Linked DNA regions of Homo sapiens: region 2 is linked to region 1. A link means that fine-mapping ties the variant in region 1 to the expression of a gene that starts in the linked region. Tissue or cell type: naive CD8 T cells. Region 1 holds a variant in brackets; the other region holds the start of a gene. All regions are shown on one strand. Distances are between the middles of the regions.

What was found.
Region 2: MRPL32 starts here. The variant in region 1 is fine-mapped to the expression of MRPL32 in naive CD8 T cells (Schmiedel 2018, PIP 0.95).

Annotation. Positions count from the first base shown.
Region 1 is chr7:42,890,658-42,906,360 of GRCh38, reverse strand. No RefSeq gene overlaps it. Among named protein-coding and RNA genes, the nearest start is that of C7orf25, 14 kb to the left of the region's middle. The variant G/AAG (reference allele first, on the strand shown) is at 7,329.
Region 2 is chr7:42,928,539-42,943,619 of GRCh38, reverse strand. MRPL32 (mitochondrial ribosomal protein L32) reads right to left here and starts at 11,244. Exons shown (of 3, transcript NM_031903.3): 1 at 11,104-11,244; 2 at 8,484-8,665; 3 at 5,763-6,298. The coding sequence starts at 11,233. The coding sequence ends at 6,044. It overlaps PSMA2 (proteasome 20S subunit alpha 2), which reads left to right and starts at 11,446. Exons shown (of 8, transcript NM_002787.5): 1 at 11,446-11,502. The coding sequence starts at 11,462. RefSeq lists an enhancer at 11,066-11,295.

The DNA of each region.
Region 1 (15,703 bases):
ACCACTGTACTCCAGCCTGGGCAACAGAGTGAGACCCTGTCTCAAAAAGAAAAAGATAAAAGAATTGTGAATGAGGCATAAAAAGCAGAAAGCATAAAATAAGAGTGCTAGCTGCAAGCACAGGAAGGATATAAAACAGCTTTGGAGGGAGATATATAGATAATTGTGATATACTGGGAAATCTCATTGGAACAGATGACTGTTTCAGGAAATGTAAATTAGAATTGAAAAATAGCCTAAATAAGCAATAACCATTTAAAAAATTGTTAAAGAAGTTAAGTAATTTCTCCAAAATATGTGCAGATGCAGTTAACTTTATTAGACAAGTTTTTTCCTACTTTTAAATACCGAATAATCCCCGTGCTCTAAAAGGTAATATGGAGCATAACCCCGTAAGTGGGGTTGAAATGTAACATGGTAAGATGTGTTGTTCCTCTTACTCCCTGTCCTCTGCCCCAAGAGGAGAACTTTGGCCTGCTCTCCTGTTTGAGAACAGGGCCTGGGTATGGGACTGAAGCCCATGGGGTGTTTCTTGACTCATGTAATAACAGGCTGACTGTCTCAGGTCATCCTTGTATTGGAAATGTTTTCAGACTCATTTTACAGAACATGAGTATAACTCTGATACTGAAACCTGACAAGATTGCATAAAAAAGAAGCTGGAACAAAATTTCAGTTTAAAAAGATACATAAACATCCCAGACAAAATGGCACTGCAGACAAAATGGATTCAGGCAGAGAACATTTCACGCTGTGGGAATCTTTTTGTTGTTGTTGTTTTGTTTTTTGAGATGGAGTTTCACTCTTGTTGCCCTGGCTGGAGTGCAGTGGCACAATCTTGGCTCACTGCATCTTCCACCTCATGGGTTCAATTGATTCTCCTGCCTCAGCCTCCTGAGTAGCTGTGATTACAGGCATGCACCACCACGGCCAGCTAATTTTGTATTTTTAGTAGAGACGGGAGTTCGCCATGTTGGCCAGGCTGCTCTTGAACTCCTGACTTCAGGTGATCCACCCACCTCGGCCTCCCAAAGTGCTGGGATTACAGGTGTGAGTCACTGTGCCCGGGAATCTTGTTCCCAAGAGGAAGAAAGGCAAGGATGAGTTCCCAACCGTTATAGTAGGGATGTGGGGATTAACCTTCATGCTGGGATAGAATCAGAGGCATGAGGCCTGCTTGAGGTAAAGAGGTAACCCCAAGACCCCCACTGAGTGAACCAGAACCTTAAGGCTGTAATGCCCATGAAAGAGGATCTTGTAAACTTTGCCCAGGGACACAGCAAGGGTTTGACTCCAGTGGTTCTGGGGGCGGGTGTGGGGTGTGGGGTGGGGGTGGTGGGGCGGGGGGAAGAACTCTGAAAGAAATCAAAGCCCAGACTGTGTCCCACATAGAGTTCAAGTCATTTAACAGCATCATGGGGGAAACCCAGAGATGTGAAATTAGTATAAAAATTGGCCGCTGGCAAGTGCTATCTCTCAGACACCTGAGAACAACATACGCAACCTCATTCTGGACTTAGGGACATTTTAGTTTCCCGGCTACGTAGATGTCTATAGAAAAACTGAGCTTTGATTGGATGCGCTTACAGTGAGAAATAGTCAAAACGTAGAAGGAAACCTTCCACCACCAGCAAATCAGCAACACATAAAGAGGAGCATTAGTTCTTCAAGAACTTAAGATTATAACAAAATACATTAAAATAAAATATATGATATTATAGAATATATATGTAAAAATATATAATAGCAAAATATAAAAGAAAGTAAGTTTGGGATCTTCTAAGTGTTCCCTATCCTCTGAAAAAAAAACAAAAAACAAAAAGAAGTAGTAATTCAAAGTAGCAGAGGGAGGCTGCAACCAAACATTGCACACACAGCTCAGGTGGAGGATGTGGTGTATATGCGCAGCAAGTATGTTTCCTAATACTGAAGCCCAGAATTAGGCAGACATTAACCACTTGATTGCAGGTAATTCTGGGGCATGTGACAGGGAGAGCTTGTCCCAAAAGGGCTGCAGAGAACACCTCACCCTGTGGCAAACTTATTCACAAAAGGAAAAAGCGCAGAGATGAGCCAAGCCAAGCCTCCAGGCATTCGTCTGAAACTTGCAATCAAATACATTTCTCTATATTCCCAGGAGAGAAGGGCCAGGCATATGCTGGGGGATATAACGCCTCCACTTCCCTGCCATCATGCAAGTAAGAATGGGGAAAAAAGGCATTTCCCTCTTCACCTAAATAACAAATGATTAAAGGGGATAAAAAAAAAGGCATAGAAACTATAAGGGGCCAGGTGTGGTGGCTCACGCCTGTAATCCCAGCACTTTGGGAGGCCAAGGTGGGCAGATCACCTGAGGTCCCGAGTTCAAGACCAGCCTGGCTAACATGGTGAAACCCCGTCTACTAAAAATACAAAAATTAGCTGGGCATGGTGGCGTGCATCTGTCATCCCAGCTACTAGGGACACTAAGGCAGGAGAATTGCTTGAACGTGGGAGGTGGAGGTGACAGCTGAGATCATGCCATGGCACTCCAGCCTGGGCAACAGAGCAAGACTGTCTCAAAAAAAAAAGAAGAAGAAGAAAAGAAAAAAAAGGAAAGAGTACAAGCAAATAAAACTTCAGGAAATAGAAAAACTCACTAAAATTACAATCTCAGAAATAAAGTTTAAAATAGTAGGTGAGATAAACTAAAAGAATTCTGAAATGAATAGAATTTCCCAGGATTCAACAAATAAATTAAATGATGAAAAATATAAACAAGATGCTGAGACATGGAGAAAAAATGAGTCCACTCCATCAAAGGTTCTGGCAGACAACATGGACTGAGCACAAAGTCGGGTTCCCATCCTCACCGCCTTTGCCTGCCTGTGCCATAGAGACTGGAGACTAAAAGCCTCATGCTCCCAGTGTTGCATTTAGCTGGGGGCGGCCAGATTCCTTGCCTCTGAGACACGAGTGGAAGTGCAATAGTGCTGCCTTCTCCTTCCACCACAGGGTCCGATGTGGTCGATGGCTGTACTTGCTTCCATGTTATGGTGATGAGAGAAAGACCAAGTGCGGCATGTAGGCTTTGGTGCTGACATATGCTTCCCGCAGGACTTCTTGCTATGTGGAAAATCAATCCCAATTTATTTAAGCCACTGTAGTTGGCTTTTCCATTACATGTAGCTGAAAATATTTCTAACTGATATTAAAGTTTATTTGTTCCTAAAAGAGACAATTAGATAGCATGGTGGAGAGGGAACAAAATCATTTTGCAAACATACAGACAAAAAAATAGAATAGAATACGGACACCAGTGTACCATTCACCGAGGTTTAAACAGTCATTATTTTGCCTTACTTGCTTTCTCTAGGTTTTTCTTTTGCTGAAATTATTTTAAAATAAATTACAGACATCATGATATTTAACATATATCCCTCAGTACTTGGCTCTAAAAAGAACATTTTTCTAGACAACCATGATTCCATGAGTACATCTAATGAAATTAATAATTCTGAGCATCATCTAGTGCCCAATCTATATTCAGATGTCAGGGGATTTGTCTACCAGAATCCGGTGAAACACCAGATATTGCATTTGGGTTTAACGTTCCTTAATTCTGTTGCAATCTATGGTATTACCTTACCCTTTTATGACTGAGTTTTTTGAAGACACCAGGACAGTTGTCTTACAGAATATTCTATATTCTTGATTTCTCTGATTATTTTCCAGTGGTCAGTTTGATTTCCTGTAAACTGAAAAGGATATCTAAAGGCTGGATTCAATTCTGGTTAAACATTTTGGGCAAGAATACTTTGTGGTTGATACTGTGTTCCTCATTTTCGTTACACGAGGGGGCACATAATATCTGGTTTTTCCACTGTTAGTGATGTTAAGTATTGTTCCTTGAATAAGGTGGTAACAGCCAGAACTCTCCATTGTGAAGTTAGTTTTTGCCCTCATGACTAGTAAGTAAACTGTGAAGTCATGCTTTGGCGCCACTGTGAATGTTCAGTTACCCATTGCCCTTTTGCCTAAGATTTTAGCATGCGTTGATGATTATAACCCTAATGAAATATTCCATTCAAGTGACAAAATGGTGATTTCCCCAATTCTATCATTTCCTTTACACTTATCAGTTATCATTCTTCCATAAAGAAGAGGTTTCCCTTAGGAACTGGGGCCATTTGGCTCCCCTTCTGGAAGGGCAATATGTATCCTTGATTCTTTCTCTCCAGTTAATGATTTCAGAATGAGGGATTCATGTTATGGTCACCTCCAATAACATCAAATGAACCTTTTAGGAGGAAGATTCTATCTTGTGAGTACTATATTGGACTCATGAATTATTATATTTTCAAATATGCCCACATCAATTACCTTACTTTTTTAAACTTATTATTTTGAGATAATTATAGATTCGTGTGAAGTTGTAAGAAATAATACAGAGAGAACCCATGTACCTTTTACGCAGTTTTCCCTAGTGGGAGCATTTTGAAAAACTGTAGTACAATATCACAAGGATATTGATGTTGATGATGTCAAGATGCCGAGTATTTCCGTTACTGTAGGATCTCTCATGTTGCCCTTTTATTTATCATTCTTTTTGATGCTTTGACTGTCCAAACTTTGGCCAGTAGAAACGCGTTCAAGATTCCTGTGTCTTTTTCACATAATCCCATGCTGTTTGATTTCATGCTTTCTGGCAGTACAAGGTGTCTCAGAGTTGCCCGTGCTTTCTGCCTGAGACCTGGAATCCACTATTTCTTCAAGGAGCCTTTCCTAGTTCGTGGCATTTCCAAAGAAAAGTCCAAGGGCTAGGGGTACTCAGTGCCACTCAGTTGTCATTGATCCTGGGCTCTTGCAATGCACAAAATGGAAATGTTTATATATTTCAAATTAATTAAAATATCTTCAACTGATGGGGAAGATCAAAATTAACATTATATAACATTCCCAGATTTTTACTTAACATTAATTTCAAACTTTTGTCTCTTGCTCTGCAAATCTTTTTTCCTAACATACTTATTTGCTTTATGCTATGCTATACATAAAAAAGTTTCAAAATATGATTATTACGGCTTACAATAAAGTCACTGAATCAATATGAATATTTCTTTGCAGTTCTTCTGTCCTTTTAGCCCAGATATAAGGTTAAAGTACTGTTTTAAAGTCATATGATTTGTATTATTTTATGAGGCTATGTTACTAATTTGATATATAGTGAGCTTCATTTGTTCTAGTTTATTTTCAATTTTAGAGTTTTCTTTTTTGACTTAATTTTATTCTTTAAAATATAAGGATATAAAATTTGTGGCTCAAAAGCAAAAACTATATAAAAATTGCCATCACAAATGTATTGTTTCTATATGTCCCTCTCTTTTTACCTCTTTAGTCTCCCCTCCACTCCCCTTCCCTCCCTTCTTTCCTTCCTCTCTTTCTTCCTTTCTCCCTCTTTCCTTTTTTCTTTTCTTTCTCACATAAAGCACATACATACAAATAGTTTTTTTTTCCCATTCCTTTTCTTCATAAGAGGTAGCAATTTGTCTTCTTTTGTTTTCATTTAAAAATATAAGCCTGAGGTTACTCCTCCTGATAGTGGTCCTCATAAAGCCTATGAAAGGGGCATAGTACTGTGTGGGTCGGCCACAGGGTAGGCCACTATCCCCGTCCTGATGGATGTTTGCATTGTTTTCAATCTTTTGCTTTTCCAAATAAAGCCAGTAGGATAGCTTGTGCATAGTTTGTGGTTTTGTTTTGTTGTTGTTTGTCCTTGTGGAAGTGCATCTACACTAGTAAGAATTTGTTGTCAAAGGGTGTCTTGGTAGCCAGGTATTATCCAATGTCTCTGATTGGGAATTTTAACAGTTTGCATTCTCAACAGTAATGTCTGAGTGTGACTGTTTTTCCATAGCTTCATCAGTAGAGTGTATTGTCTCACTATGACATTATTTAATTAGTTAATTATTTGCATTTTCCCTTTTAAGAATGAGCTTGAGAAACTTTTTCTGTGTTTAAGGGATATTTGCATTTTTATTTTTTTCTGTGAACTTTTCATTTATTCTTAGGGCTGCCTTTTTGATTATGTTGCTCATTTATTTTTCTTTTCTTTTTTTTTTTTTTTTTTCTGAGATGAGATGGAGTTTTGCTCTTGTCGCCCAGGGTGGATTGCAATGGCGTGATCTTGGCACACTGCAACCTCTGCCTCCCAGGTTCAAGTGATTCTCCTGCCTGAGCCTCCCGAGTAGCTGGGATTACAGGTGCTGACCACCACTCCCAGCTAATTTTTGTATTTTAAGTAGAGACAGCGTTTCACCATGATGGCCAGTCTAGTCTTGAACTGCTGACCTCAGGTGATCTGCCTGCCTCAGCCTCCCAAAGTGCTGGGATTACAGGCGTGAGCCACCGCGTCCTGCCTATGTTGTTCATTTCTTTTATATATTCTCATTTTCTGGTTCATTTAATCTATCTTACTGAGAAAGTATAGTAACACCTCCTTGAATATTCAATAGTTTCTGTTTTGTGCAAATTGCTCTTTATTTATTTGGTATATAAAAAATGTGTTAACTTCTAATTGTGAATTACAGCTTTTATCATTAGAAAGTATCTATCTTTGTCATCCTTAATACTCTTTTTATTTTGTCTGATATCAAGATCAGGACCTCCCGGTGAATATTATATTAATTTGCCTAGTATACCTTTTTCCATTCTTTTTATATGTTTTTTACTTTTTAGCCCTTGAATTATTATATATATTTTTTATTTTTTCATAAGTTATTGGGGTAGAGGTGGTATTTGGTTACATGAGTAAGTTCTTTAGTGGTGATTTGTGAGATTTTGGTGCACCCATCACCCATGTATACACTGCACCATATTTGTAGTCTTTTATCCCTCACCGTCTCCCACTCTTCCCAAGTCCCCAAAGTCCATTGTATCATTCTTAATGCCTTTGCGTCCTCATAGCTCAGCTCCCACATATCAGTGAGAATATACGATGTTTGGTTTTCCATTCCTGAGTTACATTACTTAGAATAATAGTCTCTAGGCTGGGCGCAGTGGCCACACTTGTAATCCCAGCACTTTGGGAGGCTGAGGTGGGCGGATCACCTGAGGTCGGGAGTTCAAGACCAGGCTGACCAACATGGAGAAACCCCATCTCTACCAAAAATACAAAATAAGCTGGACATGGTGGTGCATGCCTGTAATCCCAGCTACTTAGGAGGCTGAGGCAGGAGAATGGCTAGAACCCAGGAGGCAGAGGTTGTGGTGAGCTGAGATTGCACCATGGCTCTCTAGCCTGGGCAACAAGAGTGAAACTCTGTGTCAAAAAAAAAAAAAAAAAAAAA[G/AAG]AATAGTCTCTAATCTCATCCAAGTTGCTACAAATGTTAATTTATTCCTTTTTTATGGCTGCATAGTATTGCATTGTGTATATATATATATATATGTGTATATATATATATATGTGTGTATATATATATATATACCACAGTTTCTTTATCCACTTGTTGATTGATGGGCATTTGGGTTGGTTCCATGATTTTGCAATTGGGAATTGTGCTGCTATAAACATGCACGTGCATGTGCAAGTATCTTTTTTGAATAATGACTTATTTTCCTCTGGGTAGATACCTAGTAGTGGGATTGCTGGATCAAATGGTAGTTCTACTTTTAGTTCTTTAAAGAATCTCCACACTGTTTTCCATAGTATCTGTACTAGTTTACATTCCTACTAGCAGTGTAGAAGTGTTCCCTGATCACCACATCCATGCCAATATCTACTGTTTTTTAATTTTTTTATTATGCCCATTCTTGCAGGAATAAAGTGGTATACATTGTGGTTTTGATTTGCATTTCCCTGATCATTAGCAATGTTGAGCATTTTTTCATGTGTTTGTTGGCCATTTGTATATCTTCTTTTGGAAATTGTCCTATTCATGTTCTTAGCCCACTTTTTGATGGGATTTTTTGTTTTTTTTCTTACTGATTTGTTTGAGTTTGTTGTAGATTCCTGATATTAGTTCTTTATCAGATGTATAGATTCTGAAGATTTTCTCCCACTCTGTGGCTTGTCTGTTTACTCTGCTGACTGTTCCCTTTGCTGTGCAAAAGCTCTTTAGTTTAATTAGGTTCTAGCTATTTATCCTTGTTTTTATTGCATTTGCTTTTGGCTTCTTGGTCATGAAATCCTTGCCTAAGCCAATGTCTAGAAAGGGTTTTCCAATGTTATTTTCTAGAAATTTTATAGTTTCAGGTCTTAGGTTTAAGTCCTTAATCCATCTTGAGTTGATTTTTGTATAAGGTGAGAGATGAGGATCCAGTTTCGTTCTCATACATGTGGGTACCTGATTATGCCGGCACCATTTGTTGAAAAGGATGTCCTTTCCCCACTTCATATTTCTGTTTTGCTTTGTCAGAGATCAGTTGGCTGTAAGTATTTGGGTTTATTTCTGGGTTCTCTATTCTGTTCCATTGGCCTATGTGCCTATTTTTATACCAGTACCCTGGTGTTTTGGTGACTATGGCCTTATAGTATAGTTTGAAATCCCATAGTGTGATGTCTCCAGATTTGTTCTTTTTGCTTAATCTTGCTTTGGCTATGCAGGCTGTTTTTCGGTTCTATATGAATTTTAGAATTGTTTTTTCTAATTCTGTTTGAAAGGATAGTGGTATTCTGATGGAGATTGGATTGAATTTGTAGATTGCTTTTGGCAGTATGGTCATTTTCACAATATTGATTCTACCCATCTATGAGCAATGGGATGTGTTTGTATTTGTTTGTGTCATCTATGATTTCTTTCAGCAGTGTTTTGTAGTTTTCCTTGTAGAGGTCTTTTGACTTCTTGGTTAGGTATATTCCTAAGTATTTTATTTTTTTTTACAGCTATTGTAAAAGCGGTTGAGTTCTTGATTTGATTCTCTGCTTGGTCGCTGTTGGTGTTTGGAAGAGCTACTGATTTGTGTACATTAATCTTGTATCCAGAAACTTTGCTGAATTCTTTTATCAGTTCTAGGAGCTTTCTGGAGGAGTCCTTAGGGTTTTCAAGGGAAGTGATCATATCGTCAGCAAACAGTGACATTTGACTTCCTCTTTATCAGCTTGGATTCCCTTTATTTCTTTATCTTGTCTGATTGCTCTGGGTAGGACTTCCAGTACTGTGTTGAAGAGGAGTGGTGAAGTGGGCATCCTTGTCTTGTTCTATTTCTCAAAGGGAATGCTTTCAACATTTCCCCATTCAGTATTATGTTGGTTGTGGGTTAGTCATAGACGGCTTTTATTACATTAAAGTATGTCCCTTGTATGCCGATTTTGCTGATAGTTTTAATCATAAATGAATGTCGGATTTTGGCAAATGCTTTTTCTGCATCTACTAAGATGATCATGTGATTTTTGTTTTTAATCCTTTGTATGTGGTGTATCACATTTATTGACTTGTGTATGTTAAACCATCCCTTTATCCCTGGTATGAAACCCACTTGATCATGGTAGATTATCTTTTTGACATATTGGTGGATTCAGTTAGATAGTATTTTGTTAAGGATTTTAGCATCTAAGCATCTATGTTCATCAAGGATATTGGTCTGTAGTTTTCTTTTTTGGTTATGTCCTTTCCTGTTTTTGGTATTAGGCTGATGCTGGCTTCACAGAATGAATTAGGGTATGTTTCTTCTTTCTCTATCTTGTGGAATAGTGTCAAAAGGATTGGTACCAATTCTTCTTTGAATATCTGGTAGAATTCTGCTGTGAATCTGTCTGGTCCTGGACTTTTTTTTGTTGATAATTTTTAAATTACCACTTTAATCTCACTGCTTATTGGTCTGTTCAGGGTATCTAATTCTTCCTGATTTAAGCTACGGTATTTTTCCGGGAATTTACCCATCTCTTCTAGATTTTCTAGTTTATGTGCATAAAGGTGTTCATAGTAGCCTTGAATGATCTTTTGTATTTCAGTTGTAATATCTTCTGTTTCATTTCTTAGTGAGGTTATTTGGATTTTCTCTCTTCTTTTCTTAGTTAATCTTGCTAATGGTTTGTCAGTTTTATTTATCTTTTCAAAGAACCAGCTTTTTGCTTCATTTATCTTTTGTATTTGTTTGTTTGTTTGTTTGAATTTCAGTTAGTTGAGGTCTGATCTTGGTTCTTTCCTTTCTTCTGCCGGGTTTGGGTTTGGTTTGTTGTTGTTTCTCTAGTTCCTTGAGGTATTACCTTAGGATGTCAGTTTGTACTCTTTCAGTCTTTTTGGTGTAGGTGTTTAGGGCTATTAACTTGCCTCTGAGCACCACCTTTGCTGTATCCCAGAGGCTTTGGTAGGTTGTGTCATTATTGTCGTGCAGTTCAAAGAATTTTTACATTTCTATCTTGATTTTGTTTTTGACCCAGTGCTTATTCAGGAGCAGGTTATTTGATTTCCATGTATTTGCATGGGTTTGGAGGTTCCTTTTGGGGTTGATTTCCAGTTTTATTCCACTGTGGTTTGAGAGAGTGCTTGATATAATTTCAATTTTCTTAATTTATTGAGGCTCATTTCATGGCCTATCATATGGTCTATCTTGGAGAAAGTTGCATGTGCTGTTGAATAGAATGTGTATTCTGTGGTAGTTGGATGAAATGTTCTGTATATACATGTTAAGTCCATTTGTTCCAAGGTATAGTTTAAATCCATTGTTTGTTTTTTGACTTTCTGTCTTCATGACCTGTCCAGTGCTGTCAGTGGAACATTGAAGTCTCCCACTATTATTTTGTTTCTATCTCATTTCTTAAGACCATTAGTAATTGTTTTATAAATTTGGGAGCTCCAGCGTTAGGTGCATATATGTTTAGGATTGTGATATTTTCCTGATGGAGAAGGTCTTTTACCATTATATGTTGTCCCTCTTTGTCTCTTTTAACTGCTGTTGCTTTAAAGTTTGTTTTATGTGATATAAGAATAGCTACCCCTGTTCACTTTTGGTGTCCATTTGCATGAAATGCCTTTCCCCATGCCTTTACTTTATGTGAGTCCTTATGTGTTAGATGAGTCTCCTGAAGGCAGCAGATGGTTGGTGAGTTCTTATCCATTCTGCTGTTTTGTATCTTTTAAGTAGAGCATTTAGGCCATTTACATTCAATGTTAGTACTGAAATGTGAGGTATTGTTGCTTTCATCATGCCCTTTTTGCCTGTGTACTTTGGTTTTTGTATGTTGTTTGTACTTTTTAACTTGTATTTTTGTTTTATAGGTCCTGTGTAATTTATGCTTTAAAGAGGTTCTGTTTGGATGTGCTGCCAGGATTTGTTTCAAGATTTAGAGCTCCTTTTAGCAGTTCTTGTAGTGGTGGCATGGTAATGGCAAATTCTCTCAGCATTTGTTTGTTTGACAATGACTGTATCTTTCCTTCATATATGATGCTTTAGTTTTGCTGGATACAAAATTCTTGGTTGATAATTGTTTTGTTTGAGGAGGCTGAAGATAAGGCCCCCAATCCCTTCTAGATTGTAGGGTTTCTTCTGAGAAATCTGCTGTTAATCTGGTAGGTTTTCCTTTATAGGTTACCTGGTGCTTCTGTCTCACAGCTCTTAAGATTCTTTCCTTCGTCTTAACTTTGAATAACCTGATGACAATGTTCCTCGGTGAAGATCTTTTTGTGATGAATTTCCCAGGTGTTCTTGCTCTTATTTGGCTGTCTAGATCTCTCACAATGCAGGGGAAGTTTTCCTCAATTCTTCCCCCAAATATGTTTTCCATGCTTTTAGAATTCTCTTCTTTCTCAGGTACACCGATTATTCTTAAGTTTGGTTGTTTAACATAGTCCCAGACTTCTTGGAGGCTTTGTTCATATTTTCTTATTCTTTTTTCTTTGTCTTTGTTGGATTGTGATATTGTATTTCTTTATTCTACTTGTTCAATTATATTGCTGAGACTTTCCAGAGCATTTCACATTTCTAAAAGTGTGGCCAGAGTTTCCTGAGTCTTTGATTGTTTTTTCTTTAAGCTACCTATTCCCATGAATATTTCTTCCTCTACTTTTTGTATCATTTTTTGGATTCCTTGCATTGGGTTTCACCTTTCTCTGGTCCCTCCCTGAATAGCTTAATAACTAACCTCCTGAATTCTTTCTCAGGTAAATCAGGGATTTCTTCTTGGTCTGGATCCATTGCTGGTGAACTACGGTGATTTTTTTGGGGGTATTGAAGAGCCTTGTTTTGTCATATTACCTGGGTGGTTTTCTGGTTCCTTCTCACTTGGGTTTCCTCTGTCAGAGGGAAGGTCTAGGGCTAAAGGCTGTTATTCAAATTATTTTGTTTCACGGGGTGTTCCCTTGATGTAGTACTCACCTCCTTTTCTTATGGATGTGGCTTACTGTGAGCGAAACTGCAGTGATTGTTGTCTCTCTTCTGGGTCTAGCCACCCAGTGAGTCTGCCTGGCTCCAGACTGGCACTGGGGGTTGTCTGCACAGAGTCCTGTGATGAGAACCATCTATCAGTCTCTCACCCGTGGATACCAGCACCTGTTCTGGTGGAGTTGGCAAAGAGTGCAATTGACTCCTTGAGGGTCCTTAGCTTTGGTGGTTTAGTGCTCTATTTTTGTGCTGGTTGGCCTTCTGCCAGGAGGTGGTGCTTTCCAGAAAGCGTTAGCTGTATGTAGTATTGTGGAGAGGGACCAGCGGTGGGTGTGGCCCTAGATCTCCCAAGATTATATGCCCTTTGTCTTCTGCTACCAGGGTGGGTAGGGAAGAACCATCAGGTGGGGGTGGGGCTAGGGGTGTCTGAGCTCAGACTCTCCTTGGGCCTGTCTTGCTGCAGCTGCTGTGGAGCTGTGTACCTAGGAGGATTATGGCTGCCTCTGCTGAGTCATGCAGGTTGTCAGGGAAGTGGGGGAAAGCCAGCAATGGCAGGCCTTTGCCGGCTCCCATGGAAACTGAAGGGCCAGTCTCACTCCCACCGTGCACCCCCCAACATCCTGAGTCCATGCACCCCCCTAACATCCTGAGTCCATTTCCAGGTGAAGGCAAGACTGGCTTGAAAATTTGCCCGAGGCTATCTGCCTCCCAGCTGTGAGAGAAAAGGACTTTAGTTCTTCCTGGCCTGTGAATTCTACATGCCCAATTTGTGCCCTCCCACTGAGTTCTGGCCAGGAGGCTTCTCCCCCATTCAAACTGTTACAAAGTTCGGGTAGAGAATTCCTTCTCCCTGTGGAGGTTTACCCCCCTGTTCCTCTGGCCAACCTCCCGATGGATCGCTGTGGTGCCAGGCAGGAATGGGCTGCCTGGGGACCCAGAGAGCTCCCAGGGCCTTTCTGCTGCTTCCTCTACCCCTGCACTTTGCTCAGCTCTCTAACCTGACTCAGCTCCAGGTAAAGTCAGAAACTTCTCCTGCAAACAGATCTTCAGCTTCTCCAGTGAGGATATGTATTTGGGAGAGGAGGGTCACCCTTTCCCACTTCCACAGTTGGGGCACTCACAGTATTTGGGGTGTCTCCCCCGGCTGCAGGAGCAGCCTACTTCCTTCAGAGGGTCTGTGGGTCCTCTTGGGATTGCTGGTTTTTACTTGCAGTTGATCTGGAGCTAAAATTCACAGCGCAAGCCTCCGCATGCTGCTCTGTCCAGAGCTGCAATCTAGTCCTTGGAGTTATTATATTTTAAATATGTCTCTTGTTTTATCGCACAGGTTTGAGTTTTGCTATGTGATCAAATTTGAAAATCATGATATTTAATTGGTCAGTTAAGTCCATATATGGCTTCAGGTTTCATTTTGAATGAAATCCACTGCAATTCACCTCTTGGTGCCTCAGCATCTTATTCAAAATTAAGGCAGTTGTGGTTGAGTGCTGGAGATTTCTCAAGAGTAAGGGGAGAGAGGGATCATAGTGGTGATGTTCGGAGATGCAGGGTGAGAGATTGTGGTGAAAACTGGAGGGGCTTAGTAGGAAAGATTTCAGGGAGTAGGTGGTCATCTCCCCAGGGAGCCACACGATTGACTGACATGGGGCTGGTGTCTCCTGGGAAAGGCAATAATCTTCATTCATTTTAGTAACCTGTATTATGAGTTCCCTTTAGGTATGGGAGTGTGGAGGTAGCAGAGAGTAAGAAGTATAGCAGGATCAGGTAGACAGTGAGTTCAGGAAGAAAAATAATAAATGTGCGTTTTCTGCTTTTGGAGAGGCAGTCTGTGAGTATCACTGGGGGGAGATTTTAGTGTCCAGAGTGAAGCCATGTCTGGCACAGGGAGCAAAGTCATCTCCAACGCTGAGGTCTTGAGTTGGGGCAGTGTCCTCCAGGAGGTGAGACTGAGATGTCTCAATGGGTAGGCACCTGAGTTGGTGCGGGCCTCAGCATTTGTCATAACTGGTTGAAACAATGATCTACTACTGGAGGGTTTGGGTGTCCAGTTGTAAACCAATGAAAGCACCCAAACTGATAGTAATAAGACCAACAATCAAAGAAATGGTGTGCAGCTGCACCTGACAGGGTTTTGTTTTGGGTGGACATTTAGGTTCAAATGGGTTTCATATAAGATGAGCAGCTGCCAGGCCTGTGGGACAATATATGGTTAATGAGTCCCAGGAGAGTCTATGTCCTTGATCTGACCTACAGACCTTAAGGGATGGGGACAAGATAAAAAAATTGTTAAAAAAAAGTAGGTTAAGGCCAGGGGCAAACTAGAGAACTTTAGTTTATTTGTGGTATTGAAGTTTGAAAAGGAGTTGTTTAAACCATCATGATGTCTCTTATTGAGACCAGTCATTTGGGACCTGTCATGGACATGAAAGTTCTATTGAATGTTCCTCAGGAGCCCAGCATGATGTGTTCTAAGAAGTGAATTGTGTGCCTTGGTTACTGTTAGTAACAGCCATGACTCTGAAGGGAATAAGGCATGGCTAGCACGGCCTTGCATTGTGGCCTCAACTCTAAGTGGAGAAGTATGATTCTAATTTATGTTTTGGGTGAGTGCGAAGTAAGAGATTCCCAGAGATTTTCTTTTTCTTTTTTTTTTTTTTATCCTTGAGGGGCCAATTTTTCAGTAATGGCCTAATAGTTTATAATAAACATGAAGACAGGACCAGTTGTTGACCAGGGTATCCAGTGCTAAGATGACCACCTGGAGTTTTGGCCACGTGCGTTGTATTTGGGCCCCATCCTTTATTAGGGACATCCTGGCTAAGGAATGGAAAGCAGCACATTCCACTAGGCTCCACCATGCACAGGGGCTGGCAGTGCCATTCACATAGTCTATGAACTCCCTTTACTGGTCACTCAGTTAATCCACAGGGCTTCCTAGTAGTCAAGGGGTTTAGGGGAGGGATGTCATCCTCCAGCACCCTGGCGTCTGGCAAGGGGCTTAGAACAGGGGAAGCTATACCCTCCTGTGGGTAGAATATACCAGAGGACCCAGGTTTGTTCCCATCTGTCTTAGGGAGCCTCAGTAGCTGTGTTGAGCTTGTGGGGTCTGTTTCCATGGCCCAAAGCATAATGGGCAGCTGGGTATAGAGGGTCACAGGCTCAGGGTCTGGGAGAGCCTCTATTTCTGGGACAGCCCAGTAAGTGGGGGCCAGTCATCTATTGTATTAATGCTGTATAGCATGAGGCCAACAGGGGCAATATCTCGTATCAGAAATCCTGGGGCAACTGATAGCTATCCTAAATATCCAGAGATTGCAGGAGGCATTTGAAAAGGTTGAGAAGACTCTACAGTAAAGGCTTTTTTTTTTTTTAAGAAGTCACTTACAGGAGTGTCTGTAGACTTTAA
Region 2 (15,081 bases), 38 kb before region 1:
TGATGGAGCTGCATTAAAGACCTCCCCTGAACCTGGCTTCATTGCATCCACAGTCTCCTCTCCTACTTGATAATTCCCAGCAGCATAAATACATATTGATCTCTCAGTTTGCAGTGCACACACTTACAGACACTCATACACACAGTGGCCTCTTAATTCCCTATCTTCCTCTAGCTATTGCTTCATTTCTCTACTCCCTAGCAGAAGAAAACTTTTGGGAAGAACTGTCTAGGAACACGGCCTCTACCACCTCAGCAAACATCTTCTCTTTAGCCCACTCCAGTCTGTCTTCTGCCATCAACACTGAAATAAAATCACTTTTGTCATCTTGCAGATGAATTCCAATTGCCACAATCATTGGGTACTTTCCTATCCTCATCTTCACCTCCCAGCAGCATTTGACAGGATGGCTGGTTTCCTCTTCTTGAAATGCTCTCCCTCTTGGAATCTGTGGCGTGACAGTCTAATGTCCTCCTCGACAGGCTACCCCTCTCCTCGGGGCTCAGTTTCGGGTTCTCTTCTTTCATAAGTACTTGCTGTGGATAATCTCATTCATTTTAATGGCTTTAAATACACTCCATCTGCTGACTGCTTCCAAATTTACATACTCACATATCCATTAGCCTGCTTGCCATCTCAGTTTCGATGTCCAATAAGTATTTCAAATGTAGCTTCTCGAAAATGGGTATCTTGAGTTTCCTGCATAATCTGCCTTCACCTCTCACAGGCTCCCTAATCACATCCTCTCTGTTACTCAAGCTAGAAACCTGGGAATTATCCTGTTTTCCCCTCTCCTGCATTTCTACAACCAAGTCCTCACCAATTCCACTTCTGAAATATGTATCTCTATTTCCTCTAGTTCTTTCTGTCCTTGGCCACCATTCTGATTTGGGCTACATCATCTTCAGCCTGGATTTCTTCCAGAGACCCTTAGCCTGTCTCCCTAGATCCCTTCTTGCCCCTTCCCAGCACATTCTCCTTACACTGGCATCCCTTCCTGTCATTCCAAACTGAATGCCACTTGGGACTCAGGATATGTTATGGGGGTAGAGTCAAAGGAGTTGCTTATGTGGGATGAGAAGGGAGAAATCAAGAATGAGTAGGATTTTGCTGGAGCAATTTGATTTGTGTCAAGGTGGGAAAGTTTGGATGAGGTACAAGTTTGGCTAGTGGGGTAAGGGATAGGGGTGATCAGCAGTTCCGTTTTCAATATGCTAACCCCGAAATGTCCATTAGTCAATCAGAGGTAGTCTATGGTTGGAGAAATGTTAGACATATTTGTTGAATGAATAAGCGAACCAAGCTAGGCTATCAGAGAAGCAAATTTACAGGGAGAGATTTGGAAAAGTTGTTAGGCTATGATCTACTGAGACTTATGTGACGTTCTAATGGAAATCTCGTATTATTTGGAAACATGGGTCTGGAGATTAATAGAAAAATGAGACCTAGATACACAGACCTGAGGGTCATCACTGCATATTTAAATTATGGAAGAAAATAAGATGGCTCACTGAGACTTCTAGAAAATTAAAATATTTTCATGTCACATTTTTTATTCAAAAAAGTTAGTGTTATTGAGTCTGATAGAGGAAAATATTGAGCATCGTCCCTGGCTTCTACCCACTGGAAGGCAGTAGCTCTCATCATCCCTCACCCCCCTACCCCAGCGTGACAACCAAAAATGTCTGTAGGCATTGCCAAATGTCCTCTGGGGTGGGAAGGGGATCATCCCTGGTTGAGAACTACTGATTAGAAGAATGTCAATGAGAAAATCAGTAGTTCTTTTTAGTTACCGAAATGTAATATTGGGGAATATTGGAAAAGAGTTTTTATCCTGAAAGATGCTCTTGGAAAGGATTTTAGAATTAAGCTGGCTGCATGTACCCAAGGATGTAGGGTTGGAAAAGAAGAGGATCAAGGAGGGAACACTGGCGAGAGCAAACTGACCCAGGGCGGAGGGAGAGAAGCCCTGGACACAGTGATAGGGAGGCTCAGTTTTGTTGGCAGCCTCTAGCTTTCACTCAGCGTTGCAGACAGCCTTTTCTCCCCCTGCAGTAATCCTGTCTGCTAGCCACAGGCTGATGGCTTTGGCAGAAACAGACAATGTCCCCAGCATTGCTGTACCTGATGGTTTATTATTTCATTTGAGAATTTCAGTGCAATTCACCTGCTGCCCCCTAGTGGAGCGGCTTGCTGATGCCTAGTAAACTGTAGCAGTTCCTCATGTGAGTTTAAAGGCTGAAACTGTAAAGCTGGCTCTGAGCTTGAACACCAGGGTCCAGAGACTGGAACTCGTTAACCCTCTAGCTTTCTTCCTGTCCTACCTCCAAATTGCATGCCTAATGCTTACTAGCGACTCCACAAACGTGGAGGAGGTGAGTGCACAGACCGTCACCGGGGCCAGCAGAGGAACACAGGGGCAGGGTAACACGAAGGTTGGAAGTAAGGTAAAGAGTAGCCCAGGGACATTCCACTGAGCACCAGGGAATATCTCTCTATTTGCCTTAGCTGTTGCTGTTCTGGATGCCCTTTGTGGAAAAAACGAGAGGACAGCAGCTGGAAGCGACACCATCCTGTTTCAAAGGCAAGATGGAAATGTTATTCACTAATCTAGACCATGGAATGACACTGCTCCCTAAAAATTGCAGTTGAAGACAGAGCATCTATGTTTGTGTATTTGCCAGAAAAACACTAATCGTAGCAGAATTCCTTAGCACAGATTTAGAAATATTGAGGGGCAAATCCTGCCCCTGAAACATAATTGCATATGGGAGGGTGGAGGCAGGTGTAGAAAACAGTTATCTGAGGAGAGTGGGAGGGCAATCCCCGTATCATGAATGTTACAAAGGCCCCTACTCATTGAACCTCTTTAAATAATAAATTTTTAACTTAAAAGTCACACTACACAAATTATGAAAAAATCGTATTTTTAAAAGATCACAATTTATTTACATTAGGGTCATCCATAGTGCACCAAAACTATTTTTGGTTTCCCAAGAAAAAATATGTATGCATAAATCTTCATGTTAAATGGCCAGATTCTAAGTATATAATGAGGGTAGAATCAATGGGATTTTTGGATTTGCTCGCAGGTTGGATGTGAAAGGGAGAAAAGGTGGGATGTCAGAGTCAAGAATGACTCCTTCCAAAATAACCTAGTAAGATGTCTCAACATCTTCATGTTGTAGGGAATGAGTAGGGACAAGGGAATTAATTTCTAATTCAAAACCTGAATCAGTTACATAATTGGTTTAATTCCAACTCATAATGATTTTCTGCCATAGTAAAAACTGGAGGCATGAAGTGATAAAATGTATTATAAAGAAAACTTTGATGGGACAACCCCTTCGTAAAAGTGAAAGTACTCTCCTTTATGACATGGTTTTCTGACATGGACTAGATATCTGGTTTTGCTATCTAATAATTGCCTAATTTGGGATGCATTTTATAATAAGTTTCTCCATTCATGAATTGAAAACAGAAAACAGTCACTCTGCCCACGTACTCTCACTAGGTTACCTGCATATAGAGCCTCTGTCTTAGCTCAAGCTCCTGTTAAGAAATTAACAAACAGCGTTTCTTCAACGATTCATCTCTCACAGTTCTGGAAGGTGGAAAGTCCCAGATCAAGGTGCTGGCAGATTTGGTTCTGGTGAAGACCTGCTTCCTGATTTGTAGTCAGCCTTCTCCTTGGAGCCTCACATGGCAGAGGGCAGAGAGAACACTCTTGCGTCTCTTCTTATAAGAGCATCAGCCTTATTCATAAGGGGTATACCTTTATTCCCTAATTACCACTCAAAGGCCTCACTTTCTAATACCATCACATTGGAGGTTAAGCTTTCAACATAAGAATGTTTTTTTCTCACATCTGTAGCAGCCAGATCAATACATGAATACATTCAGTCTGTACTATCAAAGGACAATTTGTTACCTGGAGATACACTTTGCAACCTATTAGTCAACTGAGGATACTGAGTAGGCAGTTGAATATATTCATCCCCAGTGTTCATGAACCACTGATTCCACCTCAAGTCTATCTTTGACACACAGCATTGTATGACTTCTCAGGGTTAAAAATAATTATCTGTAGAGGTTTGTCTAAATAATATGCAGATAACCAATTCCTCTGGAATTTCAACTTTTTAATGCTTAGATCAAGCCCAGCCTTGAAAGAGCTATTTGCTGGGATTCTAACACTTTGGAAGTTTTAAAAATTTTTTACTGAATTGCACTTCAACGTAACATTGGCCTATACCATACCCAATGAAATTGGTGATTTTACCTCTAGGAATGTTAACATAGATTGCGCCATTATACAATTTTCATTATGAAGCCCCAGGCCTTAGTACACTTCAGGCCTTAGTACCAAGATAGTGATGCATCTTCTAGATTATCTGTCTTACTTTGTGAAGACTGATCCATGCAAGTGAATCTTCTTTCTTTCCAAAGAAAAAAATGTTCAGCCTGTAATTCTGGCACTTTGGAAGGCCAAGGTGGGCAGATCACCTGAGGTCGGGACTAAAAATACAAAAATTAGCTGGGCATGGTAGCCGGTGCCTGTAATCCCAGCTATTTGGGAAACTGAGAACAAGAGACTTGCTTGAACCTGGGAGGTGAAGGTTGCAGAGAGCCGAGGTAGTGCCACTGCACTCCAGCCTGGGCGACAGAGTGAAACTTCGTCTCAAAAAAAAAAAGAAAAAAAGAAAAAAAATGTTGAGTCAAATATGCTGCCTAATATAGTATGTGTTCAGGTTACTGCAGCATGTATTTTTGCTGTAAATACTTCCCTGGGCTTTATCTTGTCTACCGATGTTACCTTTAACTATAATTCCCTAAGTTGCTTATCATTATGTGTTTTAAATAGCTACCTCACTTTTTTCATTTTGAATGAGGCAAGAAACAAAATAGCAAACCTTGGGCTCAAGGTGGACACAGGAATGAGAGAGGTAGAAGAAAATAAGAAATTAACTGTAGAAAGTTAAGTTAAAGGCCAGGCACACTGGCTCATGCCTGTAATCCCAGCACTTTGGGAGGCTGAGGAAGGTGGGATCGCCCGAGGTCAGGAGTTTGAGACCACCCTGGCCAACATGGTGAAACCCTGTCTCTACTAAAAATACAAATATTAGCTAGGCGTGGTGCCAGGCGCCTATAATCTCAGCTACTTGGGAGACTAAGACAGGAGAATCTCTTGAACCCAGGAGACGGAGGTTGCAGTGAAGCTGAGATCAGGCTATTGCACTCCAGCCTGGGCGACAAGAGCGAAACTCCATCTCAAAAAAAAAAAAAAAGAAAGTTAAGTTAAAGAGCCTATTGCCTATTGTTACAATGAGATAAAATTGATAAAACGTGAAATAAACTAAAAGGACATATTAAAAGAAAAATGCAAAGAACATTCGTATCACATTTTCAGTGTGCTATGGAATCTGCTCACATCTTTACTAATAATCTCTTCCAAAACATAGGCTATCTCATATATTCTGAATATGATTTTGATTTAATGTAAAATGTAAAGAAGTACTTCTATCACCTAAGTAAATTAGTATGTTTCATAAAAGTAATTTCCTCCAAAAGCAATTTTAATTTGCTAAGAGAAAAATAAGAACAAAAACCATTCTTACTGCCACACCTACCATCTTAAAAAACAATACCAAAAATGCAAATAATAACCTATTTCCATGTGTTACTTAAATGGAGTTATCTGTGTTAAGTATTCTTGTCTAAGAAAAGGCACTGGCAAACAAAACCAAAGCCAAAACACAGAATTTTTGCTATGAATTTTAAATTTTTTATTTTTGTTCTGGAAATTTTATGTTTACTTAAAACCTTGTATATAATAGAAACATAATCCATTGAGCCTTTGGATAAACAAAATTTTCGGAGTTTACTCATAATATATTCTTCAAATTATCCCACACAAAACTGCTTAGAAAGAATGTGTTAAACTATACTGATGATTTAAAAACAAGCACAACAACATAAAGAATCTTCCTCTATTTCAGGAGAAATGATTTACTGTGAAGTTACCCTTTTAACATCTTTGGTGTCAATTCTGGGTGAACCAGGATGGTCGCTTTCTGTCTCGTTCAATGATCCTCTTGCCCTGATCTTGTTCAGACGGTGTCTCTCCCGTGTACAGCACCACAGTCTCTATGGTGGGAGCCTTAAAAGGGCCCCCTTCTTGCTTCCCTATCTGTCGTCTGATTTCTGCAGTCTCCTTGCACACCTTTTCATAGCAGTAGGCACAAAGGACATGTTTCTGTTTCAGGTGACCACATTCAGGACAAACGTCTATGTTGTTCTTTAAAACAATAAACAAAAACGTATTTTAACATGAGGCAATATAACGAACAAATAACCACTGACAGGAGCAATGCTTACATTTTAACTTTCTTAGGATGTTCAGGCTACATGAGGTCATCATACACCATCTAGTTCCACCTCACTTTAACAGGAAGACTGAAGACAAGCAACACTGAGTTTGAATTAGAGAAAAACTAGAACTAGAATTCAGCCAACCTGAATCTGGTATCTTTACTTAAACACAGCAGTTGTAGTTATGTAAAAAAGAAAAAAGAAATACTCATTTCCCCTAACTCCAAATACTAAATATCAAATAAGGAATTTGTCAACATAATGAAGTGACCCAAACAATCAGCATCTTAAATAAGACACCAAGGAAAAGTGAATTCCCTTTGTCTTTCAATCTATCTTAGGGAAAACAAGATAAGAACATTACAAGTTGACTTCCTTGGCTTCCTCTTTTTATCACAGTGTAATTCAAATTCCTGTACAGAATACAGGTTTCGTATATGGTATAATTTTTCTTTTTAAAAATGAACACTGATTATTCCTTAATGTAAAATTATTTTCTATGTTACATTCTTAGGGTATTTTAATGATATATATATGTGTGTGTATATATATATATATAGAGATAGATATAGATATATATATATCTCCAACTTTAAATATAAAATAGAAACATTATAACCTCTAAAAGATTTATCAACTTATTCTAGATGTAGGTTTGAAAGAAAATACAAAGAAAAATACTAAACAGGATCATTAAAGAAGCTTTAAACACTTGATAAGATTAATATACTAACATTTGTGAGGCAGATAACAAAAGAATTTCCTTTTCTGAAAGGAAGAAAGAGGCTTGTATATTACTTGCCTAACCATATTCTCATTTTGCTCCACTACTGGAAACTGGATTGCATGCACAACTGAAGGTATGAAGACACCCACAGTCAGCTGGTCTTCCTTTCGTGATCAAAGTACCCAACATAACACACTATATACCGTATGTAACAGAAAATAATTCAAGGAAGAAAATAAATGCACAGGATAAGAACTATTCCTTCAGAATAAATGCGATCAGGGAAGTCACATAATAGATCAGTGCAAGATCTCATTCCTAAAATCTTACGTCCTCTTGAGCAAATTTATGAATTACTGTAAGTCTTAAGTAATAAAGTGTTTTTCAGTTCTACATTTAAGTTCAGCCCCAACCATCACTCAATAATACTTTCTGGCTTAAGTTCTAAGGTTTTGCTTAACAGAATGTGGATGCTTATGAAAGTCAGCTTTCTGTTCTCGAGTTTCATCTGTATGGTGCTGCTGTTGTGGAACGCCATGAAGTAAACAGTAACTGAAATCCTAACTGTTAAAACCATACATGAACAGATCAGAGGTAATACACACTGTAATTTTTCTTTACTAGATCAATGAAGACAGTACATCCATGTTGTCAGCGAGGAGAATCTGAAATTGTCTGAGGATAGGAGAACACAAAGAAAATCTTTAAAAGAACATGAGGTCAAAAATCAGAGCTCGAAAATCTACTGCTTCATAGCTGTGTGACCACAGGCAAATTCTTTTTGCCTCAGTTTTTTCATCCTAATAATGAAGAATATCTTATTTGCTTTGGAGGGCTATAAGACATGATGAGATATAATAAACATAAGGCACTGAGATACATCATAGACACTTAATTGTTGTTAGCTATTATATTACTTATCTTAGGGTTTTCCTTCATGGTATTTTGTTGGAAATGATAAAAAAATAAAACAAATATGTAAGGGCTTGTAAAACCCAAGATTCAGTATACCTACTGCTTCTAGCTTTAATTCTAGGCTCTGCCATAGTTAGGATGTTTACTCATCTGTAGTTCAAAACTCACACAGCTCAAGACTGACACAGCTCACAATTCAGAAGTCATGTAGGCACCTCACAGCCTCGTTCCTTGCCCAGTCTCCAAACTCACTCCTTCCTTGACTGTGTTTCTAATACTCAGGCTAGAGGACAGCAGGCTCTAGCCTTCTCATTATGTATATAATGAGAATACTGTATTTCATTTAGGCCAGAGGAAAGTAGACACATATAATCTGATAATAATTTATTCCTAGGCTATAGGAATCTACCATGAGCTTATTCAATGGAGGACTTGAGGAAAAGCACACCCACAAAAATCAATGCATTACCTTAACTTTAATAAGCTTCTGCGGATTTCTTCTCCTACACCGGTTAACTTCAATGGTGCGTCTATTTTTGGGAGCTGCCATCCAAAAGATACTGTCCAAAAGGCTGGAATTCTCTTTACTTCCACTGGTATCATTTGCTGGCTCTGTAAACATGGCTGGGCCCTGTACTGCTAATGCTGGTCCTAGGAAATAAAACATAAGAGATACAGAATTAGTTTCTAGCTTCTAAATTACTATTTACAGATATCATTTTCCTTAACAATCAATGGTCAAACATACACACACACAAAAACTATATATAAAATTTAGAATGTGAAACTCAATAATGAGAAACCTTAGCTATTAAAATACACTAAAGCTTATACAATTTTAAGGAACACAGAATTTTTTCTTAGCGGATCCTGCTGAAAAGAAGATCAGTGAAATTCCATCAAGTTTCTTATCTCATAAAATACAGGACTCTGATAGGCACCTAACTTGAACAAAACAAGCAAAGAATCACTCAACTGTCCACATTCTATTAATACTTGGCGGGTAGTAAGTACCTGATTAATTTACAAGTAAATCTAGACAGATTTCCTGAATACACTTCTGACCGGCACTGATGTAACTGCCAATTGCCTTTTCTTATATTCAAACTGAGTCAGGTCCTTTATGATACAACCTCTTAAGTCACTTAGTTCCTCATAACATTTAATCTTGATTCCTGTCTGCTCTCTAAAGAAAAGAGCCAGCTCACCATTTCTCTGTATGGCCTTATTTATGTGACTATCAAAGTTTCTCTTTTTCTGAATTGCTTATAAAATCAACATTCCTTTACCCTTTCCTTGCTATTTCTTAGACGTGCCATACTTTTTTTTTTTTTTTTTGAGACTGAGTCTCACTCTGTCACTCAGGCTAGAGTGCAGTGGCGTGACCTCGGCTCACTGCAACCTCCGCCTCCCTGGTTCAAGTGATTCTCCTGCCTCAGCCTCCCAAGTAGCTGGGATTACAGGTGTGCACCACCACGCCTGGTTAATTTTGTATTTTTAGTAGAGACAGGGTTTCACAATGTTGGCCAGGCTGGTCTTGAACTCCTGACCTTAGGTGATGGACCCACCTTGGCCTCCCAAAGTGCTGAGATTACAGGTGTGAGCCACCGCGCCCAGCCCACATACTTCTTTTGATCTTAAGAACTCTTAAAAATACACAAAGTTCTCTAACACTTAACAACTGGCATTTATTTTCAGTATGTCCACAAGTATTGCCAAGCATGCCCCGGTGATTAACAACACAGGCTCAGGACTGTCTGTGAACTTGGGACCATTGTGAGCCTACTGTTTCAGTTGGAAAGTGTATACACCTAATGGGACTGTTGTCAAGATTATCCCAGGAAGTACATGTAGAAAGCTTGGCACATTGCTTGGCATATAGTGGCATATATTTTCTTGGTATATTTCTGGATATTATCACTTTCAGGCTGCTTAGAAATTGAGTAGAATGTAAATGCCAAAGCCATGACAGTTTCAACATCCAAGATACTTCCAATTAAAATTAATTCCAAGTGAAACATGGGAAACAGAATTCAGCTCCTCAGAGCTCAAACACCACAGAAAACATGTACTGCGCGGGAGGGAGGGAGGAAGGGAGGAAAGAAGGGAGGGAAGGGAAGGGAAGAGGAGAGGGGGGAGAGGGGAAGCGGGAGGGGAGGTGAGGGCAGGGCTGGAAAGGAAAGACAGATCCAGAGAGTGGTGAGCCTTGATGCCAAGTGAGACCTGCAGAACTGTCCTCTCAGGACAACTCTGTACAAATCCCTGAACTCCACAGACTTGACCAAACTCTAGCATAGTTTCTAGCAGCATAAGGCTGTATCCTAGGATGACCTCGGCCCCCCCTTTAAAGTGCCTGCCTGAGAAAGCTCAACGCTGCCTGGAAAATTTCCTATTTATTTTGGCCAACATACCCCGATAGTAGGTCCCGAACTCCCTTAGAGCATTTCCTGGAAAGGGCATATAATTGTAAATACGTATCCCTTGCAACTAACTCGGAAGCTTTTCTTTCAAGGCCCTGAGAGCCATTCCTTCGAAATCTAATCATTAGGAAGGATAGGGCCTTTGTCTCCCAGTCTCTGCGGGAGGATAGAATTCTCCCTAAGACAACTGCGAGCTAGCAGACACAGCCGGCTAATCACATTTGCACTGACTTCACTATACTACACTTCTCTGACTCTACAGAGCCCCTACACTCCCGCCTCGCTCATTCTCCCTTTAAAACGCCCAAAGTCACCTCTGCACAAACCGGGATGGAGCTCAGCTCTTTACCTGCAGTAGTTACTGAATAAAATCTGTTTTCAGCGCTTTACTTACTGGCTGGCTATGATTTATCTTTGACACAAGCTTGGGTTACATTCTGTGTACGAATGGAACAAGCAGAGGAATTTTTTTTTTTTTTTTTTTGCGGTGGAGGGAGCGCAAAAACAGTCGTTCTGTTCTCGCTAATATGGGAATGTCACGAACTACGTCCCCGACATGAGGCCGCGGATCAGAACCGGGGCTGAGGGCGAACTGTGTAAGCTGCGTCTGCTACGCTGCCCGAGGTCCCGTCATCAGCCCCCTCTCCCACGGAGCCCTTCTTTACCTACCCCACGGAGGACTGGGAAAGCCCGGCCGGCTCTGCGGAAGCTTCCGTAGCAGTCGCTCCCAGTAGTTTCGAAGCACTCCCCGGGCCGCAGACCACGGCGAAACCACCAAGACCAGCATGGCCAGCGCCATTTTCCCTGCTGGAAGACCGCCCCGGTCCCGCCCCTGCTTTCAGCATGCGCACAGGCACAGAATCGGGCAAGCCTCGCTTCTTAGAACTACAACACCCCGCATGCTCTTGGAGCAGCTCTGACTCTCCTCCAATCATAGAGAGTAAAGGAAAGGTGAGGGGCGGGGAAATGAAAGGAAATCGGCCACAGTGCGCATGTGTGCGGCTGTGCTTTGGCTCTTCGGGTAAAGATGGCGGAGCGCGGGTACAGCTTTTCGCTGACTACATTCAGGTATGGAAGGGGCCCTCGAGGTCTTCAGCGTAGTCGAGGTTGCTGGTACTCTGTCGATTTAGTTTTTCCCATCCTGACGTCGGCATTGGTGCTTCTGGAGGGTCCAGTAGGGAATGGAGTTGGAAATGCGGCTTTGCAAAGTCATTTGCCAGGCCGACCCGGGATTCCTGGAGCTTCCTTGGTCGGAGGCTGCTGGAGGGTCGGGGGGATGCGGTTTTGCGGGGTTAACATGGGGCTGCGGGACGGTGAGGCACATAGCCAAGGATTCGCTTTCACTTTGGAGACCAGAAAAGAAGGCAGTTTTAGCTTAACCATCTCTGGGTGGCCCGTTCCGAACTCAGGATTTTTTTCCTGGCTCAAGTAGACCTGATGCGGTGGTTTCTGAAACTTGGAATCTTGGTCAAATATGTGGGGTTCCCTTTTCTTGGAAAACTCTCAGCTTTACAGTTAAGTCGGAGTCTTGGTCTCCATTTGGCACTAGTGTCTTTCAAAACCTCCCGCTTTCGGTTTCTTCGATGCACGAATTAGAAACATAAGGACTAAAAACCGAAAGCCCCTATCACTTTTTTGTGAACCCCTAACAACGAGGCAAGTTTGAGTTTTGGTCTTTTTTTGGTGGACTGGGGGGAACGTCGGGGAGGGGGATGTTTACTTTAAACAAGATTGTAGGTTTTTCTATTGTAGAAAAGGGGATTAGAATAATAAGTTTACTTTCCAAAATACAGTTGGGGCGAACCATGGCTCTCAACGTGAGAAAACCATCGCCGAAGACTTTTAAAAATTGACTGGGGAAGTTTTCTGACTTACCCATTTTCTTAAGGATCAGTAATGCCCAGTTTACTTAAAATGTACTCCTGACAACTGAAGGCAGGCGGGATCTAACTTGTTGAGTACTTTGTTAGGTGCAACTTAACCTTAACCTGCTCCATCTCTTTCCACTGCTATAATGAATGTTATCTCAGCTTCTTACAGATGAACTAACCGCAGCTTGTACAAATTAAACAACTTGTCTAAGGTCATCGGTGAGTAGCTGAGTTGACATTCAAACTGGGTTTTTTTTCTGATAACAAAAATACACTTTCCATTACATAACGTTGTCTTAAATTCCAAAAGTACTTTTCTCTTGGCAGTTTTCAGTAAGCAGTGGGTGTATGTAATAGTTTTTTTGTAACCTTTGAACGAGATTAATTTAATTATGCAATAAAAGGTCTCATTATATTACATATGACAGAATAGTGTGTGCAGGATGTATTCACTGTTCCTATTTATGAAGAAAACAAATGTGGTCCTTTTTTTAGGGACAGGGACTTGGCAGCCTCCAGCTCTTGGGCTCAAGGGATCCTCCTGCCTCAGTCTCTGGAGTAGCTGGGACTAGAGGTGTGCACCACCCTGCCTGCTAATTTTTTTTTTTAAGGCATGAGGTCTTGCGATGTTGCCCAGGCTGCAAATGTGGTCTTTTATCGCGAAGAAAGTGTAATCCTAGTGGAGCTGAAAACATAAAACAACCGTATACCTTCAGGGACTGAATCTTTTTATAACAAATTTTCTTTATTAAAATAAACTTTTGGCCAGGCAGGGTGACTCACACCTGTAATCCCAGCTACTCAGGAGACTGAGGCAGGAGGATCACTTTAGCCCAGGAGTTCAAGACTAGCCTGGGCAACACAGCAAGACCCTATCTCTGAAAAAAATTAAAAAATTAGCCAGGCATGTGCCTGTAATCCAAGCTATTTGGGAGGCTGAGGGCGAGAGGAGCACTTGAACCCAAGAGTTTAGGATTCAGTGAGCTGTGATTCTGCCACTGCACTCCAGCCTGGGTCACAAAGTGATACCCCATATCTAAAAGTTTTTTTTAAAAAAACCAAACTTGTGTGTGTGTGTGTGTGTGTGTGCGTGTGTGTGTGTGTGTGTTTTAACATGGTGGATTCACCTGTTTTAGATAAAAAGAAAATATTTGTTTCTAGCCTCTCATAATCAGAAGTAAACTAATGGTGGAAGGGACTAGAGACCATACAGGATGAAACAGTTCTTGTGGACTACATTTGGTTGAGGAATTGACAATAAATGAGTAAACAAATTGGTGCCTACTAATACATTCTCTTACTAAGGAATTTTATTTTAAATGGGTGAAGGAAGGAATATGACTTTAGATTGAGTAATCAGGAAAGGCTTGTGCTTGGGGGTGATTTTTGAGACTGGAAGATTAAAAGTAACCAGCTATTTGAAGATTCAGGAATAAGGAGACTTGTAGACAGAGGGAACAGCATGTATGAAAGCCCTGAAACTGGGAAGGAGCTTGAGCTCTTAAAGGAATAAAAATGAGGCAAATGTGCTATAGTGAGCAAGGAGATAATGTGGGAGAGGGCTAATCGTGTAGGACTTTGTAGGCCAGAGAAGGAGATTTTATTTTACGTGAACAAAGAAGTTATTACAAAATCTAAGTGTAGGTGACATGGTCCAAAGGTAACTTTGGCTGGGGGTGGAAGTAAGGTTGAGAAAGAGGAAAACCAGTTAGAAGGCTATTTCAGTTATCCCATGTAGGGATGCTGATGCTATGGAATGGGATAGTGGCATTATGGAATATAAAGATGGTTGATTGCTCAGCCAGCTCACAGGTTAGTGAGCTTTCACGCAGTGAAATCATGCAGTGGTAAAGATAGGTATGTACAGGTAATAGGAACAGAGAAATGGTAGCTATTAAGTTTACATGAGCCTTTAAATGTTACCCAGGGGTATATGAATTAGGTATTGAACAATAATTGAAAGCTGGATGGACCCAGAAAGTTATGATATGATTATTGAAATAGTGACTATTAAAGGAAAAGTTCAGCCTAATTTTTTAATTTAAATGTCAGTTGATGTTATTCTGCTCAAATTAATTATATCAAGAGCCTTAAAGCTGTCACCCTTAGGTCTGTTTCTTTAATTGGTCTAGATGTGTCTCTGTCAGCCAAATGATTGTGGATTCCTGGTATTAGGTTATGTGCTGGAATCCTGACTGAACATAGCTACTTTATTGAGGAAGACAAATATTGTAAAAATAATAAAGAGACCGAGGCAGGAGGATTGCTTGAGACGAGGTGTTTGAGACCAGCCTGGGCAGCATAGCAAGACCCTGTTACTAAAAAAAAAAAATAACAATTCAGATATGATGAATCTTAGACAAAGAGGAAGTGCAGGACATCACAGGCATCAGTGAATAGGTATTCAACTTAATCTTGAGGGTTCAGGGCAACTTCCCTTAGGACATGATTGAATGAAAGGAGTTCACAGGGCAATAGAGAAATGCATTTCAGATGGAGGGATTAGCTTGTCAATGAGGCGTTTGAAGTCTGAGAGTAGTCTATGTGTTTGGAGCAAGGAGGGATGGAGTTGAGATTTGAGTGACCAAGGGAATATTCGTAATTATATGAAGAGAAAATACGGCCTTCTGAAATTTATATTTTCATTAGTAGACGGGAGATAAGGACCTAGCTGTGTCACTTTGGACAAATTACTTTCACTCAGACTTTATCTATGAAATTAGGTTGGTTTATGATGATTCCATTTAAACAACTAGGTTGAAATAAAGGATAACTT